Homo sapiens: one gene and its partner. The protein of the gene in region 2 purifies or fractionates together with the protein of the main gene of each other region. This does not show direct contact. Each region holds a gene or a part of one and is shown on either strand. Other genes may lie near its edges.

Evidence for each region.
Region 1: the proteins of OCIAD2 (region 2) and ACOT9 fractionate together in Homo sapiens (co-fractionation; one large-scale study listed by BioGRID). This does not show direct contact.

Annotation. Positions count from the first base shown.
Region 1 is NC_000023.11:23,705,277-23,708,776, reverse strand, and holds part of ACOT9 (acyl-coenzyme A thioesterase 9, mitochondrial isoform a precursor), read left to right. Parts: intron 1-832; coding exon 833-900; intron 901-2,037; coding exon 2,038-2,149; intron 2,150-2,918; coding exon 2,919-3,009; intron 3,010-3,182; coding exon 3,183-3,268; intron 3,269-3,500. UniProt on the Homo sapiens protein: Mitochondrial acyl-CoA thioesterase. Catalyzes the hydrolysis of acyl-CoAs into free fatty acids and coenzyme A (CoA), regulating their respective intracellular levels. Regulates both mitochondrial lipid and amino acid metabolism.
Region 2 is NC_000004.12:48,887,147-48,889,774, reverse strand, and holds part of OCIAD2 (OCIA domain-containing protein 2), read left to right. Parts: intron 1-2,628. UniProt on the Homo sapiens protein: Has an essential role in the assembly of mitochondrial respiratory chain complex III. Is also required for STAT3 activation and plays a role in cell migration.

The DNA of each region.
Region 1 (3,500 bases), on a different chromosome or scaffold from region 2:
AGAAATTCAACAGTGATACAGTTATTTAATATGTGATCCGTATTCAGATTTCACCAGTTGTCCCTAAAATGTCCTTTATAGCTATCTTCCTGATTCAGGACCCAATCCATCAAGGATTGTATATTGCATTTGGTTATCCTGTTTCTTTAGAATAGTCTCTCTGCCATTTGCTGTCTTTCAAAAATTGATATTTTTAAAGAGTTCAAGCCAGTTTTCTTTTTCTTTTTTTTTTTTTTTTCTTTTTTTGAGACAGAGTTTCGCTCTTGTTGCCCAGGCTGGAGTGCACTGGCACGATCTCGGCTCACCGCAACCTCCACCTCCTGGGTTCAAGCAATTCTCCTGCCTCAGCCTCCCGAGTAGCTGGGATTACAGGCATGTGCCACCACGCCCGGCTAATTTTGTATTTTTAGTAGAAACGAGGTTTCTCCTTGTTGGTCAGGCTGGTCTCAAACTCCCAACTTCAGGTGATCCCCACCCGGCTTGGCCTCTCAAAGTGCTGGGATTACAGGCGTGAGCCACCACGCCCGGCCTAAAGCCAGTTTTCTTGTAGAGTGTTCTACAACCTATATTTGACTGTTTCCTCATGATTAGAATCAGGTTAAACATTTAGCAGATGCCAGTATCCTTTTTATAATGTTAAGTTTCTAGTGTGCAATTAAGGCTGTAACTGTAAGGCTTCCCTAATTGTTCCAGCGTTCACATGTAAGGCAAGCAGTAAGCACTACCCAAAATGAAAAGCAGATTCTTTAAAAGTAGTAGGTGATTGTTCATCTTCAAGTTTTATTAGATAATGGCATATCTTAAATTATATTCTTTTTTTTCTTCTTTTTAGGCCGGCATTTGTAAATCCACTCATCCCTGAAAGCCCAGAGGAAGAGGAGCTCTTTAGACAAGGGGAATGTACATTAATTTGTTTATAATAAAATAAATTTGAAAAGCACATTAATTACGCTGCAGAAGAGATTATTTAAGATTTTATATGGGCTCTTCATACCAGTCAAATGTCTTTTTTTTGTTTGTTTTTTTGTTTGTTTTTTTTGAAATGGAGTCTCTCTGTCTCTTGCCAGGCTGGAGTGCAGTGGTGCCATCTCGGCTCACTGCAACCTCTGCCTCCTGGGTTCAAGTGATTCTTCTGCCCCAGCCTCCTGAGTAGCTGGGACTACAGGTGCGCGCCACCACACCCAGCTAATTTTTGTACTTTTAGTAGAGATGGGGTTTCACCATTTTGGCCAGGATGGTCTCGATCTCCTGAACTCGTGATCCGCCTGCCTTGGCCTCCCAAAGTGCTGGGATTACAGGCGTGAGCCATTGTGCCTGGCCCAAATGTCTTATTCATACCAATAATTTATTGAAATTAAAAATATGCTATTCTTTTTTCTTTGGAGTCCATACTTTGAATGATTTTATTGATCAGACAATATTTATTAAGTGAAGTAATTTGTTATCTCCGTTTTTTTTTTTTAGACAGTTCTTGCTCTGTTGCCCAGGCTGGAGTTGGGCTTGGGTCCAGGAGTTTGAGGCTACAATGAACAATATTGTAGTCTCGATCTCCTGGGCCCAAGCTATCCACCCACCTCAGCCTCCTGAGTAGCTAGGACTATAGGCACGTGCCACCATGCCTGGCTAATTAAAATTTTTCTTTGTAGAGACAGGGGTCTCACTATGTTGCCCAGGCTGGTCTTGAACTCCTGGACTCAAGCAATCCTCCTGCCTCCGCCTCCCAAAGTGTTGGGATTACAGGCATGAGCCACTGCACCTGGCCTGTTTTCTCCGTTTTAATGAAGTGAGAAATGCATCTCAATGGGATAACTGCAGGTCAGGGCTCTGGATCAGGATGATATCAAGTGATCTCACACTGAACCAATATAATTTCCATGTGGAACCAAAGACTCACTGGGAGTTTTATGTGGCCTCTGCAGTTTTCTCTTGGATACGTGTATAATTTTCAGTGAGATTTTGAAAGGCATCCCAGGTCAGAATACCGTGTGCTGTAGTGCGACCGTCCTGATCATTGCTCCTTATTCTCCCTTGTTCCAGTGAACAAGGGGAGAAGAATTGCCTTCAGCTCCACGTCGTTACTGAAAATGGCCCCCAGCGCTGAGGAGAGGACCACCATACATGAGATGTTTCTCAGCACACTGGATCCAAAGTAAGGATGGTGAGATTCCACGTTGGGAAAACATTTAAACCTTGGCCTTTTTTTTTTTTTTTTTTTTTTGAGACGGAGTTTCGCTCTTGTTACCCAGGCTGGAGTGCAATGGCACGATCTTGGCTCACTGCAACCTCTGCCTCCCGGGTTCAAGTGATTCTCCTGCCTCAGCCTCCGAGTAGCTGGGATTATAGGCATGCACCTCCACGCCTGGTTAATTTTGTATTTTTAGTAGAGACGGGGTTTCTCCATGTTGGTCAGGCTTGTCTTGAACTCCTGACCTCAGGTGATCTGCCTGTCTCCACCTCCCAAAGTGCTGGGATTACAGGCGTGAGCCACCACACCCGACCTTTTTTGTTTTTGAGATGGAGTCTTACCCTGTTGCCCAGGCTGGAATGCAGTGGCGTGATCTTGGCTCACTACAACCTCTGCCTCCCGGGTTCAAGCAATTCTCCTGTCTCAGCCTCCCAAGTAGCTGGGATTACAGGCGCCCGCCACCACGCCTGCTAATTATTTTGTATTTTTAGTAGAGACGGGGTTTCACCACGTTGGCCAGGCTGGTCTCAAGCTCCTGACCTCATGTGATCTGCCTGCCTCGGCCTCCCAAAGTGTTGGGATTACAGGCGTGAGCCACCGCGCCTGGCCTAAACCTTGGCCTTCTCCAGAGCCACAGTTGTCTGAGTGTATTGGGAGTGACTTGCAAATGTTTTTACTTTTCAACAAGAGAACCATGGCATTAACAGGGTTTAATAAATATTCATTTGTACAGGACTATAAGTTTTCGGAGTCGAGTTTTACCCTCTAATGCAGTGTGGATGGAGAATTCAAAACTGAAGAGTTTGGAAATTTGCCACCCTCAGGTATTATAATTTAGTGAGAAATCCGAATAGGATAGCTTCCGTTCATGATATTTGTCCAAGATTTGACACACCTTTAAACTGGCCTTTGTCCTGTGGCATTGTTAATTCCTCTGTTCTGTATACAAAGGTGGCCATAAGTTTTGTATTTATTGATATTTATTTATGTCCTGTAGGAGCGGAACATTTTCAATCGGATCTTTGGTGGTTTCCTTATGAGGAAGGCATATGAACTTGCGTGGGCTACTGCTTGTAGCTTTGGGTGAGTTACATGTAAGGCAGCCTTAACTTCTGAGAAGCAATTTATATCACCCCACTGAAATGAAACATTTCGGACCAGTCTGGGTGTGTGTGGGAATATGTTATGTTTTTGAATGAATACCACACTGATACCAGCTGAATTTGATCTTCATTTTAGAAGGTTGTTTCTCTGACTTTGTAAGTTCATACATTAAAAAAACTACTGAGAAAATACAGTGATGATATGTAGAAAG
Region 2 (2,628 bases):
TAATCCTTTGGGTATATACCCAGTAATGGGATGGTTGGGTCAAATGGTATTTCTAGTTCTAGATCCTTGAGGAATTGCCACACTGTCTTCCATAATGGTTGAACTACTTTACAGTCCCACCAACAGTGTAAAAGTGTTCCTATTTCTCCACATCCTCTCCAGCACCTGTTGTTTCCTGATTTTTTAATGATCGCCATTCTAACTGGTGTGAGATGATATCTCATTGTGGTTTTGATTTGCATTTCTCTGATGACCAGTGATGGTGAGCCTTTTTCATGTGTCTGTTGGCTGCATAAATGTCTTCTTTTAAGAAGTGTCTGTTCATAACCTTTGCCCACTTTTTGATGGGGTTGTTTTTTTCTTGTAAATTTGTTTGAGTTCTTTGTAGATTCTGGATATTAGCCCTTTGTCAAATGTGTAGATTGTAAAAATTTTCAGGAGATAGAGACATAAAAAACCCTTCAAAAAATCAATGAATCCAGGAACTGGTTTTTTGAAAACATCAACAAAATTGATTGACTGCTAGCAAGACTAATAAAGAAGAAAAGAGAGAATAATCAAATAGATGCAATAAAAAGTGATAAAGGGGATATCACCACTGATCCCACAGAAATACAAACTACCGTCAGAGAATACTATAAACACCTCTATGCAAATAAACTAGAAAATCTAGAAGAAATGGATAAATTGCTGGACACATACACCCTCCCAAGACTAAACCAGGAAGAAGTTGAATCCCTTCAGTAGACTAATAACAGGCTCTGAAATTGAGGCAATAATTAATAGCTTACCAACCAAAAAAAGTCCAGGACCAGACGGATTCACAGCCAAATTCTACCAGAGGTACAAAGAGGAGCTGGTACCATTCCTTCTGAAACTATTCCAATCAATAGAAAAAGAGGGAATCCTCCCTAACTCATTTTATGAGGCCAACATCATCTTGATACCAAAGCCTGGCACAGACACAACAAAAAAAAGAGAATTTTAGACCAATATCCCTGATGAACATTGATGCAAAAATCCTCAATAGACTACTGGCAAACCAAATACAGCAGCGCATCAAAAAGCTTATCCACCATGATCAAGTGGGCTTCATCCCTGGGATGCAAGACTGGTTGAACATACGCAAATCAATAAACATAATCTACCATATAAACAGAACCAAAGACCAAAACCACATGATTATCTCAATAGATGCAGAAAAGGCCTTTGACAAAATCCAATAGCCCTTCATGCTAAAAACTCTCAATAAATTAGGTATTGATGGGATGTATCTCAAAATAATAAGAGCTATTTATGACAAACCCACAGCCAATATCATACTGAATGGGAAAAAACTGGAAACATCCTTTTGAAAACTGGCACAAGACAGGTATGCCCTCTCTCACCACTCCTATTCAACATAGTGTTGGAAGTTCTGGCCAGAGCAATCAGGCAGGAGAAAGAAATAAAGGGTATTCAATTAGGAAAAGAGGAAGTCAGATCGTTCCTATTTGCAGATGACATGATTGTGTATTTAGAAAACCCCATCATCTCAGCCCAAAATCTCCTTAAGCTGATAAGCAACTTCAGCAAAGTCTCAGAATACAAAATCAATGTGCAAAAATCACAAGCATTCTTATACACCAACAACAAGCAACAGAGAGCCAAATCATGAGTGAACTCCCATCACAATTGCTTCAAAGAAAATAAAATACCTAGGAATCCAACTTACAAGGGATGTGAAGGACCTCTTCAAGGAGAACTACAAACCACTGCTCAATGAAATAAAAGAGGATACAAACAAATGGAAGAACATTCCATGCTCATGGGTAGGAAGAATCAATATCGTGAAAATGGCCATACTGCCCAAGGTAATTCATAGATTCAATGCCATCCCCATCAAGCTACCAATGACTTTCTTCACAGAATTGGAAAAAACTACCTTAAAATTCATATGGAACCAAAAAAGAGCCCGCATTGCCAAGTCAATCCTAAACCAAAAGAACAAAACTGGAGGCATCATGCTACCTGACTTCAAACTATACTACAAGTCTACAGTAACCAAAACAGCATGGTACTGGGTACCAAAACAGAGATATAGACCAATGGAACAGAACAGAGCCCTCAGAAATAATGCCGCATATCTACAACTATCTGATCTTTGACAAACCTGAAAAAACAAGAAATGGGGAAAGGATTCCCTACTTAATAAATGGTGCTGGGAAAACTGGCTAGCCATATGTAGAAAGCTGAAACTGGATCCCTTCCTTATACCTTATACAAAAATTTATTCAAGATGGATTAAAGACTTAAATGTTAGATCTAAAACCATATGAACCCTAGAAGAAAACCTAGGCAATACCATTCAGGACATAGGCATGGGCAAGGACTTCATGTCTAAAACACCAAAAGCAATGGCAACAAAAGCCAAAGTTGATAAATGGGATCTAATTAAACTAAAGAGCTTCTGCACAGCAAAAGAAACTACCATCAGAGTGAACAGGCAGCCTACAGAATGGGAGAAAATTTTTGCAACCTACTCATCTGACAAAGGGCTAATATCCAGAATCTACAAAGAACTCAAACAAATTTACAAGAAAAAAACAACCCCATCAACAAGTGGGCAAAGGATATGAACAGACACTT